Linked DNA regions of Homo sapiens. The protein of the gene in region 3 purifies or fractionates together with the protein of the main gene of each other region. This does not show direct contact. Each region holds a gene or a part of one and is shown on either strand. Other genes may lie near its edges.

Region 1 (3,500 bases), on a different chromosome or scaffold from region 3:
ATATCAAGAGGTACCTGAGTACAGGGCGGAATGTGGAAATGGAGGTTGGATGCCCATAAGGGGAGGGGTCCACAATAAAAATGATATGTGATAATGATCCCACGTGTGTAAACTTATGTAGGTGTGATATAAGCATGCCTGCAAAAAGAGATAAATGAACCGGGTGCAGTAGCTCACGCCTGTAATCCCAGCACTTTGGGAGGTCAAGGCAGGTGATCACCTGAGGTTAGGAATTCAAGACCAGCCTGACCAATATGGTGAAACCTCGTCTCTACTAAAAATACAAAAATTAGCCAGGCATGGTGGTTCACGCCTGTAATCCCACCTACGTGGGAGGCTGAGGCAGGAGAATTGCTTGAACCCGAGAGGTGGAGGTTGCAGTGTGCTGAGATCGTGCCACTGCACTCCAGCCTAAGTGACAGAGAGAGATTTAAAAAAAAAAAAAAAAAAAGAGATAAATGAAAAGGTGATCACCAAAAGTTTTTTTTTTTTTTTTTTTTTTTGAGACGGAGTCTCACTCTGTCGCCCAGGCTGGAGTGCAGTGGTACAATCTCGGCTCACTGCAAGCTCCGCCTCCCGGGTTCAGGCCATTCTCCTGCCTCAGCCTCCTGAGTAGCTGGGACTACAGGCGCCCGCCACCACGCCCAGCTAATTTTTTGTATTTTTAGTAGAGATGGGGTTTCACCGTGTTAGCCAGGATGGTCTCGATCTCCTGACCTCGTGATCCGCCCACCTCTGCCTCCCAAAGTGCTGGGATTACAGGCGTGAGCCACCGCGCCCGGCCCAAAAGTATTTTTAAAACATTTAAACAAGTATCTAACATAAAACATTAAAGCCCTTAATTCCCTTGCTTCCAACTACTTGCTTGATTAGGAGCAATTAATTAAACCCACTATTTGATGTATGTTTTTCCTGATTTTTTTCTATGCATATAAAACACAATAATGAGATGATACATGCTACACATACTATTCTGCAGCAGGCGTCTTCCCACCATGGATCTTCTCCCATAACAATGCTTTACAGAACCACCATGACCTTTTGAATGGCTACAAAAGATAGCATGTATGAATGCATCATGGTGTGTTTTTTTCTCTAGTGATAGACAAGCTGCCTGAAATTTCTGGCTACTCCTAATGTTACAATAACTATCCTTGCACACAAACCCTTGTACTTGTAGGCAAGTCTAATGGGATAAATTCCTTAAAGTACAACACCTGGGTCAAAGAGAATGAACCTTTACAACTTTGATAAGTTCTGCCAAATTGTCCTTTAAACAGGTTGTACAAATTTATGTTCTCACTAACAAGAGTTAGAAAATGCCCTTTTCCCAAAGCTCTAACATCAGAAATTTTCAATGTTTTAAATTTTTGACAATTTGATTACAAAAACTCCTATCTTTTTAAACTGTGCATTTCTCTGATCACCAATATAGTCAAGGATCTTTCCTTCTTTTATTAGTCATTTATATTTCTTCTGTGAGCTGCCTGATCATACCCCTTGCTCAATTTTCTAGGTTCCAGTTAACTGTTCTCCCTACCTCTGGCTTCATACCCCTACACTAGGCCACCCCCTATATCTGCAGAATTGTCATCAAACACAAATCTGATCTTGTTCCCTCAATTTACAACTCCATAGTCCACAAAATTAAGTCTTTAATATGGCACCTTCCAAGATCCTCCATAGTAACAACGATAATGCAAATACAATAACATCAACAGAAAACGTTTCCTGAATGCATTATCTCATTCAATCCTCAAAACAACCCTTTGAGGTAGTAATTATTATCATCCCATTTTAGAGAAAAAGAAATTGAGGTACACATCCTCAACCACACTTGGCCTCTTGTCAATCCATCCTTATTTCAGCCATTCCCAACTACTTGTATCACTGTGCCCCTCTGCAGACTTCTGTGCTGTGGACATCCTTAGCCTGCACTGCCCTGCCTTAGGCCGCCCCTGCTGTTTGTTGGGTGAACAATGGCTAATCTTTTTAGACCCAGTTCAGGAAAGGCCAAAAGCTAGAGGAATGGTATTTCAGCACATATGATCAGATTTGGAAGTGATCTTAAAGAGACATCTAGTTTCACAATCTATAGACTATGGATTCCAACTCCCATTAGCGGGTCAAAGCCAGGGTTTTTATAAAATTGAAATAAAATAGAATAAAAAATATCAGAGAGCAGGGAGTGAAACTATGTATTGTTTCAAGGGCAGGCATTGTTTTGTGAAGGTTGTGTATGCCAGGTCCCAAAGTAAAATGTGTTTTTTACTGTGGGTAGAGGTCCAACCACCAAGCCACTCTCCACGCCAGAAGCCAGAATGATCTTTCTAAATCTGATTACGTCAGACTCTTACTTTGAAATTTTCTGTGTTTTCCTATTTCCATTAAGATTAAAGACAAAACAAAACACCTCACAATGCCTACCCAGGGCCCTGCTGGTCTCCCGTTCTTCTGAGGTCATCCCAAGCCTTTGAAGGTGCTGTTCCTGCCTGTACACTCTACCCTTGCCCTTTACACCTTCTAAGTCCCATTAATCCTTCAAGATTCTACTCAAATATCACTTTCCCCAAGAAACCTCTGCCTAAGTTTCTTGATCTAGTCTAGGTTGCTAGACTAGGACAGATCTCCAAATTATATACTCTCAATGCATACTGGACTTTTCTGTACAAGCACTCATCACAACCGTAATTAAATAATTATCTAACTGCTGCCTCCTTCCTTAGTTAGTTGGGTTCCTTTTGTATATTTCTAGCAACTCACTTTTGCTTTGCCATTCATAGGAAGCACTCAGCCAGTACTTGTAGAAGAATGAGTCTCCTGTCCAAAGCAAGAATCATCTTCTCTCAGAAACCTTTTCGTGACATCAGTCCTTACCCCATACAATGGACTCCTAATCATCATCGCACTAATGAGGGGTACCACTTAACAAAGCCAGTGTAATATGCTAGCCACACAAATGCTTTGCCTAGGACAACTCATTTTGGTCTCTCACAACCCCGAGAGAAAGGTACTATTTTACATACTCTTACAGTTGGGGAAATGGAAAATTTAGAGAGTTGTTCAAAGTTAAATGCAACCACTAAATGGCAGGGCTATCTAAACACCATTACTAGCACCTATACTACTGTATTGCATTTGTTTGTCTACACATATCTGCTGCTCTTTACTAGATTATATTCTTTGGAGGCAAGGACCAAGGCACAGGCACACAGTAGAGCCTCATTAACTATATTTGCTAAATGAATAAAGGTAGGTGGGAAAAGGCAAGAGTTCAGAGCAGAGCACTTTATAACATCATAAAATAACCTAGCTGGAGAGACCTATCCCCTCTCAGTGTAGGAATCTCCTAGAATTCCTAAAGAGTGTGACTTGCTATACCCCCCGCTATATGGCCCATTCTCTTGTTAGTTAACTCTAGTTGCTAGTTCACTTAGATTCTGCAAGCATTTATTGAGCATCTACTACATACAAAGCTCTATGCTGGGGACTGCAGACAG
Region 2 (3,500 bases), about 50 Mb from region 3:
CAAAGACTGATGCTCTTGTCTGTTGATTAGAATGAGAATACTCTATATTCACTGATGATCTATTATTCTACTAATATCATTTCCCAAAATTTAAAATTTGGATATACAATTTCAAAATAGAAATATAATTATGTAACATCTCTGCCAAATTACACCACTGTGTAGTATCGATTTCTAACTTAATTTATAACTCATTCTAATTCATTGATATGTTTTCCTATCACACGGAAATAAAATAACCAAAATAGATCTAGTTTTTAGAAATACACTATATACAATGGACCCTTCTATCCAAAATAGCTACACTGGAGACAAAAATCCAAGCTTTTAATTACTATTCAATTTTCCTATTTTATATATCCTAGGAAAAAACAGAAATTTAAATCATGAATTCATCTCAATTCAATAATACTCACTGGGCTTTAAGAAGATCTTTTTCCCGTTTCTCTAATTCAGCTCTAGCCTTGTTTCTTTCTTCTTCTTCCATGTCGAGCTTTGTTTCAAGTGCTTTTCTCTCCTCATCAATTTTTGCTTGCATTTCAATCATCTTGTCTGGGGAGACTTTCTTTTTTCCTATTTGAATCATTTAATTGCAACAATCACTAAAATGAATCAATGTTTCAGACTTATATAAATTACCTCCTTCAATATAGAAATGCCTACACTCCTCAATAATACAAAACCAATTATCAATATTTTAAGGAAATCAAACCAATAATATCATGCATTTCCATTTATTATGCTCCTAGAACTTTATAACTCATTGCTAAATTCAAACTGTTGTCCAATTGTACAATGATAACTAAGAACAAAAGCGAAAGAGAAGCAAAATAGATGAGCTAAATAATAGGAAAAGAAAGATTAACAGGAAAGCCAAATTAAAAAATATATATGTCCCCAGATAACAAATATAGGTTAAAAAAAAAGCAACATGATTCTTCAGTTACTTTTTCCTGATAACCAAGTATAAAATCAAGCGACTCCTTAAAATATCTTCCCCAAGTTCACATAAAACAAGTGAATAAAAGTCATATATAGGTATAAAATGCACAGATGAAAATATCAGGCAGAATTTACATCAAGTAGTTTTAATATATTTTTCAGAGTTTTTCTAAAATTTTTGTTTAATAACATTAAAGTATTTTATTTCACAGCATACTTTTAAAGGAAAAAATTCTATACTATGTAATTATGTAACAGTTACATACACAGTAATTAACCAAGCATTTCACAGTTGCTGAGCTGTCAAGATATATCATCATACACTAAAGGAACAACTAAAATAGCTTGTTATTATGTCAAACTCAGGACCCGAAGGCTCCCTAAGTCAGAGTAAACATGCCAAGTGTCAAATATAAGTAGAAATACTACCAAATAATAAAGCTGGAATATGGCTTCCAATTGATTATTTTTGCTAATAATGTCTAATAAAGTATTTTACATACATGTAATAGGTGCTCAAAGAAAGTTTATTAATGAATTTCAAAATAACAAAATCCAAATGAAAAAGAGAAAATAAAACTAGCTTATTAAACTGGTGATGAAACTGAATCAAAGACAATTCATTTCTGGTCATACAGTTTCTTAGAAACATACATTCCTTCAGAAAACCAATAACACTTTTCACAGAATTGGTCTGAGGCTCTCCTAGAACCTTTCCGTCATTCTTAACTTCCTTCCCAAAGAACTACAGAAGAAGAGTGTAAATCATAAGAGTGTATAAATTGTTAATGTCTCCACCCAAAAGCTAACCCCCACCACCTAACAAGGAAAAAGAACTGAAAAATAATTATGATGGAGATATATAACTGAGTATATTTTTTCAGGAACTATGAAATGAAGAATCATTAATAGGCTTTAACTCTTTATGACAAAATTATGTAAAAAACTCTAGGGTTTAAAATACATTATTTGTATAGAACTGTAAGTCCAGAGCAAACCTAAGACACAAGACAAATGAAATAAAAGAGTAAATAAAAGCACTGATCCAAATTCATGCTTTGGTGTGGTGTGATTCATTGCATTCCAAAAGTCAGGATGTAGACTGATTCTATTTACTGGCTTGTTTGGCACAGTCATCTGTATTGAATCTTTTGAATTAGCTGTTAAAAAATAACTTTAAAATAATTTAACTACTATTCCCAAACTACTTATCCCATCAGTCATACTATGTCTTAGAAATTTGAAGGAGAAAAGTATCAGTTCAGGTATATAGTAAGTATACGCATTTAAAAAAGTGTAACTTCCTTTCCACCTGAGAATTATAAATATTTAAAGACAAAATGGGACATATGTTAAGACAAAAATAATAAATGCATGAAGACACTGATGCTAACAGTATAGAGGAAATGATCTAATCAACATATGAACAGTAGTATGTACAGGCTTCAAGGGTTCTAATTGTTTCAATAGTTAAAAACAGTTTCAAAACCCATTAAGAAGCAGTAAAATAAAAAGTTTTTTAAATAAAAAGATTTTACATGTGGAAATACAAAGACACATAACTGTTCATGCATTAATGCATTACATTAGTAATTTAAAACCATTCAGGTATGTTTCCAAACTGATACTTTAGCAGCAAAAATCTTATTGTGGTCTTGTAACACTTTCATGAAGACAATCAAAGATATATAGCCAGGGTTAGTTTCAAAAGCCTAATATTTAAGTAACATATTACTTTAGCCAGAATCACTCTGACAAATCATTATATTTCTCCACAAATAATATTTTAAGCTAAATGTGAATATGTGCTAACTCTCCTAACCAGGTATTTAAAAATGTGACATCAGTAAAAGTCACTTTTATATGTATTTTTCAAAGGACTTTTTTTTAAAAAAACCTTCTTAAACCAATCAAACAAAAAAGAAATCTATTTCTAACAATGCATGATAAAATTCAGCACAAAATTTCAGGTAAATAAATATTTTTAAAAGTTAATGCCATAAACAGTATTTAACTAAACCAGACATAAGTAGCAACATTTTTTTATTGCCCTTTGCCATGTGCTCTAACCAATATTGTGAACGTTAACCGGCCAGGGTAAGTCAAAGGGGAAGAACTTCAGGGCAGTCCTAATTGAATTAATTTCATTTTTATTACATAAGCAACCACGGCATAACCAGGTATTTGATTCTTGGCTTTAAGAAAAAAGGAGAAAAATGTTTGAATGTGAAATAATTTACACTTGTATTTCCAAACTTTGGCTTAATGAGTCTTTAAGAATTTAGGGAAAAAAATGAAGTTCTTTTTAAAAGCTAAAGTTGAAAGATTGTTAAAAATACAAAAGATAGATACTTACCTGGTAAAAAAACTACTAAATTTTAAAAATTTAATGTATTTAAATAACATAGTTCTTTATAGGATAAATAATTGTACCATGTGGAGTGCAAATCAATCACACCAACCTGCTTGATCTTGCAATAAGAAGTAGTAAGCAAATCGCAGACAGGAAGCAATACGCACAGAGATGAGGAGGAAAAAAAGGAAAACATTATTTCTCT
Region 3 (3,500 bases):
CCTTTGAAACTCCTATTCTCTCCTATCCCCTTCCTTCACCAATCCAGTGAATATGTTCTATTAAGATCCTTAATAACGTTTGTATTGCTAAATCCATCAATCAGCAGGATACCACATTTATATTTTTGCCTCTTACCTCCTGGCTGCTCCTTCTCAGTCTTATTTGCTCAGTCATAACCCCTTCATCAGCAAATCCTGCTGCCTCTAAGCACACCTAGAATCTGCTCCTTGCTCATCGCCTCTCCATCACTCTGGTCTAAGCCAGCCTCATCCTTCACCGAATTGTTGTACTAGCTTCCCATCTGTTATATCTTCTTCTGCATTTGTCATCCTATAGTCTATTCTTAACACAATACACAGACTAATCCTCTTGAAATTTGAGTCAGATTATGTCACCTGACTGTTTAAAATCCTTCAGTAGTTTCCAAGTTAATTCAAAGTAACAGGAGAAGTTCTAATGGTAGCCTATATCGCCCTACACGTGATGAGGTCCCATCATCTCTCTCATCTCATTTCCTAATTCTCCCAGTCTTCATCTTTCTACTTTATCCAGATTACACTCTATAGTATTGCTTAAACGCGTCAGGAACTTTGTACTTAGTGTTTTTTTGTTTTTGTTTTTGTTTTTGTTTTCTGTTTGGCATGGTCTTCCCCAAGACAGCATGTCACCTTCACCTTCTCACTGAGGCCTTTTCTGATAGTCTGGCTAAAATCATAACCCTCATCCTTATTCTCACCCTGACCTTTCTAACGCCTTCTCTGGTTTATTTTTCTCTTTAGCACTTATCAACCTAACATATTTTATATTTATTCATCTTATATGTTTCCCTGACTACAATTTAAACTCCACAATGGCACAGATTTTTGTGTTTTGCTGTCTAATGCATAGCAAAGTTTCTAGTACATAATAGGAACTCAAAAATATTTTCTAAATAAATAAATCAAGCATTTATTTTAATAGTATTGGTTTTAGGTCAAAACCATCTAAGTATAAAATGAGTTCAGAGGCTCCTGTTTCCACCGTCACTAGGAAATCTATAAAACATTTTAAAAAATAACTCATGGGTTTAAACACTTGCTGGGAACTTGATCCAAAGGACTGAGTAAGTCATAGGTACTTTGTACTAAACTGCCATTTTTCCCCTTCTCTTTTCCTCTATTACATCTCACTTGTTGCAATCTTTTTTCTGAAGAGTGAAAGAAGGCCTCAACTTCAGTATAATTTAGAGCATTCTTGATTACTCTGCTCCAGTGGCCTATTCATGGCTTTAGCTAAATAAGATCTCAAATGTTAAAGGCAACCAGCTTTAAGCTGATGATATTTAGCATAAAGGTGTTTCTTCCTCATTGCTTATGCTTTTCCTGGTTATATTTAACCAGGAATAGTATACCTTGGAGTATATGTGTATGAATGCTTGCTCACACTGCTGTGCTAATGAGTTGCTGCATTTTACAAATAATATTAAGTTTTAACATTAAAAATTTGAGTTTTTAAAATAAAAATGCTAAAGAATTTTCATAGAATAAGGTCTTTCACAACATTTTTCCATTATGGTTTCTTGTCATTAGAATAAGAAGCCCAAATAAGATATTCAACAGAGGAGATAAATGTATGTATCTCTTACCTGAAGCCAACCCAGAGAGATCAGTTTGGTTTTCACTTTCCTCATCAGTACTCTCATCATAGACTGGATCTCGGTCAGCAGTCATTTCAGAACAGATTGCAGTTTCCCTAGAAACAGAGAAAGGTAGAATTATAAATAACTGGCTCACCCCCTGCTAGGCAGCAGATTTATCAGTAAGCAATTATAGAAAATATTCCTAGAAAAAGATTCTAATTAGACAAACATATTGAAAATATATATGATTTAGATGAAAGCATCTTAAAACCTATATATTAACTCTCTTAAGAACAAGTTTCTCTTTTACCTAATTTTAATCTGAATTTAGTACTTATTATAATTAATATTAAATCAGTTTCTTATCAGGTACTATTCTTCCATCAAAATACTTTTTCTAACAAATTATCTCTGTGAGTCACAGAGTATTTAACATTTTACTAATCTCAGAACAGTTCGCATTTCATTTGATCTCTGCAAAACCCTAAGATGGGTATCTTTACCTTTATTATGAAGATAAAGTGACTTGTCCAAAGCTATAAACTAATAGGTATGACTGCAAGACCAGTACCTGTGCTAGGACTAGCTGATATCAAATTTTTTTATACTACGTCACTGGTAATTCTGTACTTCTACTAAGATTCAAAGCAACAGACCCTAACTTGTATTTGCTAATGCGTAAAAAAGTTATAATCGTCGAAAGCCGTATCAGCCATTTGTCACTTAGGATTCTTCCATAAAAATCAAGTACATATGTACTTTCAGAGAATATGTGAAAGAAGAATAAAACTGATAATCACACTCTAATCAGATAAAATAAGTGCTCCCTGGAATTTAATATTAACCACTTGATTCTAAAGTTAATCATTGCCTAGACATCAAGATTACAAATATGCATCCAACTTTTGTAGTTCTGCAGATGAAAGTTTTTTTTTAAATTAGTATGTCTTACTAATGTCTAAGAATTAAATAATACTTTAATAAGCCTCATGTCAGTTTTTTAATTTAAGTGTAGGTGACACAGTTGAGCAGACATAGAGAGACCATGCTGAGAACTCTCTAGCCCATGGTACCCCTATCTAACAGCCTGAACATCCACATCCAGACTACCAAATTATCTCATATGATCAAAAAGTTGGCATCTAATGTTCATTAACTTTGGGAAGAAATTCCACTTAAATGTATTCATCTGTCATCCAAAAACAAGATAGCGAAAATACCCTTCTTGTTTGATGTCCTTTTCTCGTTCTTGAGCTGCATTTAATAATTTATTATGCAAACTTCTGATTTTTGTTTTCTTCTCATTCAACACCAGAATAAACCGCTTATAAAGATCAGTCTCCAAAGCTTCCTTAGCACTCACACATTTTTCAAATCTAAAAAAGTAAATAAGTAAACAAATTAGTCATGCAGTTCTGCTTAGCATTAACATAATTCAGCCTAATAATCAAGAAGATTTCAAGGAAAATACAATTAAAGATTATTTTCACATATGCTTTCACTGACTTGGAAGTTTTATAAAGATGGTTAAATACACAATTAGAAATTATTGGTTATTAATGTAATTTATTTACTGAGATAAGGATCAAAATTGAAAACTGATACAAATAAGCCTTTAGAAAATCAAAATGCCTAAAGATAATTTATTGATACATATGGTTTATTTACAAAAGAATGTTTTTATGGGATAAATTTCAAACAAGAGTAAATGTAGCCTGTTTCCTCAGTACTATGTTAATATTACTATAAAAGCAACTACAATCTTATTTTGTGATAAGGCAACATAGCTAATTTGTCTGATTTATCTACTAGACAACAAACTGCTCCACAACAAGAACACGACTTATCCAGTTATATTCTTATAAGCGAGCACCACACACA
Region 4 (3,500 bases), on a different chromosome or scaffold from region 3:
ACATTATTTGCTCTTATACATCAAAAAGAAAACTTCTCATCTTGGAAAAAGCATACATGGGTACTTGGAGTAAATATACTTTGTCTCCTGACTGTCTCAGACCACGAGACAGTAGCCCTGAGCTCCTTGTCAAGTTGTAGGCCAAGACAAACCCTTGAGACTTAAAAATATTGCTAAATAATCAGTGGAGGCCAGGCGTGGTGGCTCATGCCTGTAATCCCAGCACTTTGGGAGGCCAAGGTGGGCAGATCACTTGAGGTCAGGAGTTCGAGACCAGCCTGGCCAACATGGCGAAATCCCGTCTCTACTAAAAATATAAAAATTGCCGGCATGGTGGCGCATGCCTGTAATCCCAGGTACTTGGGAGGCTGAGACAGGGGAATCGCTTGAACCCAGGAGGCGGAGGTTGCAGTGGGCCGAGATTGTACCAGTGCACTCCAGCCTGGGTGACAGAGCGAGACTCCATCTCAAAAATAAAATAAAATGATACTTAAAATCAGTGGAGAGGGGTCCAAACATACTGCATATTAATTGTAGACATAATTTTAAATGAGTCCATGTCCTACCATCTTCAACTTCTAGGAAAACTAGAGATACGAGGGAAGAGGGATGGATTTGTGACTGTCAGAAACATAATCAAATATGTGAATTCAGATACATGATGTAGCATTTTCTCTGGTAACCAGGATATCAAAGCAAGTCTTTTCCATCCTTAGCAGTCCCTTGGTGGTATGATTTTCCAGCAACCTGAGTCTGTTGATTGGCTCTCTGTGCCTCCATTTTTCCTCCTGTTATGGCCTCTTCCTTCAGTGCTTCACAGTGCTTGGGGAAAAAAAATACTTCGCTTAACTTGCTGCCACTTCTAGTTAAGCTCTTTCCCCAGCTAAATGCCAAGAGGACTTTTGTGCTCACTACCGTATCCTCAGCATTTAGAATAGTGCCAGGCAACAAGTGGGTGCCTAGTTAATATTCGTTGAAAGAATTAAATCCATTTTCCTCTATTTTTCTATAGCCAGACATTTTAAATTTTTTCTCTGTACTTTAATGGATGCAGATAACAAGTTTTTAAGGTGACATGTCTTGAAACATATCAGCATATATAGTTTTCGTTCTTTAATGACCACATAGAATGGATGTACCATAATTTGTCTAGCCATTTCCTTATTGAAGATATTGCTTTGATTTTTTTTCCATCATACTATAATTTGCTTTGAAAAAACCTCCAGTTATAAAATAGTAAAGGAAGTGTTACAAAAATAAATGAAAGGACAAAGATAGATAATACAGAATGCATAAAAGATGAGGGATCAGTTTGAAAGTTCCAGTATCTGACTCATTTGAGTTCAAGAAAGAGCAAAGAAAACAGAGATGATGATTAATAATGGATACAAGAAAATTTCCCGGAGCTTAAGTGCCGCAAATTTCTAGATCGAAGGGGCTTTCTAAATGCACAGAAAAACTAATGATAGAAAAAACAAACAAGAAATGTCACAACACCAAGGAAAAAGAGAAAATCCTGAAAGCTTAGGGAAGGAGATGACGAGGGAGTGGAGGAAAGAATGAAAATAGGATCCCTTTAAAGCTGTATGAAACAGAATGGCATTGAAATCAGTGGCAACATTGGATGCTAGAGGAACTTACAGCAATGCTTTCAAGAGCTGAGAGAATTGCTAAATCAAGTGTAAATGTGGAGGAAAGACCTTTTCAGGCATGCAAGGACTAAGTTGCCAACCCATGTGCCTTTTCTTATATTACTTTCTTAAGGTATTGGGGATGTATTTCAGCAAAACTATGGAGTGAACAAAGAAAGAAGGAGGCATTAGAATTCAGGAAACAATGGCTGTAACCCAGAAAAGCAGTAAAGGAAAACACCAAAGGTGACAGCTGTGCCAGCAGATCTAGAGGGCAGTCAGCCTAGATTGTAATGAGAAGAAGGAGGGTTTGGAGGGGGAAGCCTTCTGAGAAAATAAAGGGGTGGGGGTGAGTTCTGTGGTACAGCAATTAAAATTGAAATTAAAGTGGAGAAAACCATTGAAGAAGGAAAAATTAAAACTCTAGGGAAAACAAAAAGCTCTTTGAGGAAGGAAATGTATTCATAATATAGTACTTAGTAGATAGCCTTACAGTCACAACAATATAGCACGGATTATTTGTTCAATTAAAAATAGGGATGTATCTATATTAGAAGAGTAGAGGGAGGAGATATTGAGGGTAGTTTCAGAACTACATCCTAATCTACAGTAGCATGAGTAAATCGATAATGTCTAAAATGGATGAGCCAAAAAGTTATAGGATAAGCACAATATTTAGAGAAATGCAGTTAACTATCCAGTAGCAACAACTGAGTTGCAATTAGTTACCTTTAGGGATGAAGACTAGGTGTGGGAGTCTTATCCAGACAGTAGAGAGACTGTTTTTCATTACAGTCATTACTATTTGATTTTCTAAATACAAGCAGGAATTACTTGGATAACAAATGATCAAATTTTAAAAACTAAGTAATACATGTTGTTTGTAAAACATTCAGAACACATGAAAGAGACATGAATGAGTGAAAAATCACCATAATCCCATCATTCAGAAATAACTGCTGGTTATTTTATTTTATTTTTATTTTTATTTTTTTGAGACATTGTCTCACTCTGTCTTAAGGCTGGAGTGCAGTGGCACCGTCATGGCTCACTGCAACCTCTGCTTCCTGGGTTCAAGTGATTCTCCTGCCTCAGCCTCCTGACTAGCTGGGACTACAGGTGCGCACCACCACACCCGTCTAATTTTTGTATTTTTAGTAGAGACGGGGTTTCACCATGTTGGCCAGGATGGTCTTGATCTCCTGACCTCGTGATCTGCCCGCCTTGGCCTCCCAAAGCTGGGATTACAGGCATGAGCCACTGCGCCTGGCCCCTGGTTATTTTTATATATGTATAGTCTTCAAAACTTGTGTATTTGTTCTGAAATATTTAATATTTTGAAACATTTTTATAATAATGACTATTGTACATTGTTGTGTTGGACCACACATATTTCACTAAAAATATATCATGGCTTTCCGCCCATGTTTATCAGTCTAGACCTCCATCAACTCTTTCTTATTCTTTAGAAACAGGGCTCTCATGCTGTTGCCCAGGTTGTAGTACAGTGGTGCCATCATAGCTCACTGCAGCCTCAAGCTCCTGGGCTCAAGCAGTCTTCCCACCTCAGCCTCCTAAAGCACAGAGATTACAGGCATGAGCCACCACACCTGGCCTACATCAACATTTTAAGTGATTGAATAGTGTTGTGTTTTACAGATGTGCGTGCTAGAATTTATCCAACTAGGATACTTCTAATTCTTTTGCATTTTAAAGCACACGTCTTTAGGAAATACCGTTGAAGAGGTTGGCCCAGACTGGTTTTAACAGTAATTACTTTCCACCTAGAATGAGAATTCTGACATTCAGGTTATTCTTTCACTCTTGCCTTAACCAGTCAGATAATCTCCCAGAAGTCTGGATATCAAG

The links. The genes of interacting proteins can lie anywhere in the genome.
Region 1: the proteins of XRCC4 (region 3) and MOV10 fractionate together in Homo sapiens (co-fractionation; one large-scale study listed by BioGRID). This does not show direct contact.
Region 2: the proteins of XRCC4 (region 3) and KIF3A purify together in Homo sapiens (affinity purification with mass spectrometry, with the first as the bait; one large-scale study listed by BioGRID). This does not show direct contact.
Region 4: the proteins of XRCC4 (region 3) and WDR48 fractionate together in Homo sapiens (co-fractionation; one large-scale study listed by BioGRID). This does not show direct contact.

What each region holds. Positions count from the first base shown.
Region 1 is NC_000001.11:112,677,659-112,681,158, reverse strand, and holds part of MOV10 (helicase MOV-10), read right to left. Parts: intron 1-3,500.
Region 2 is NC_000005.10:132,703,047-132,706,546, forward strand, and holds part of KIF3A (kinesin-like protein KIF3A), read right to left. Parts: intron 3,414-3,500; coding exon 3,405-3,413; intron 574-3,404; coding exon 417-573; intron 20-416; coding exon 1-19. UniProt on the Homo sapiens protein: Microtubule-based anterograde translocator for membranous organelles. Plus end-directed microtubule sliding activity in vitro. Plays a role in primary cilia formation. Plays a role in centriole cohesion and subdistal appendage organization and function.
Region 3 is NC_000005.10:83,203,047-83,206,546, reverse strand, and holds part of XRCC4 (DNA repair protein XRCC4), read right to left. Parts: intron 2,996-3,500; coding exon 2,840-2,995; intron 1,733-2,839; coding exon 1,626-1,732; intron 1-1,625.
Region 4 is NC_000003.12:39,055,016-39,058,515, forward strand, and holds part of WDR48 (WD repeat-containing protein 48), read left to right. Parts: intron 1-3,500. UniProt on the Homo sapiens protein: Regulator of deubiquitinating complexes, which acts as a strong activator of USP1, USP12 and USP46. Enhances the USP1-mediated deubiquitination of FANCD2; USP1 being almost inactive by itself.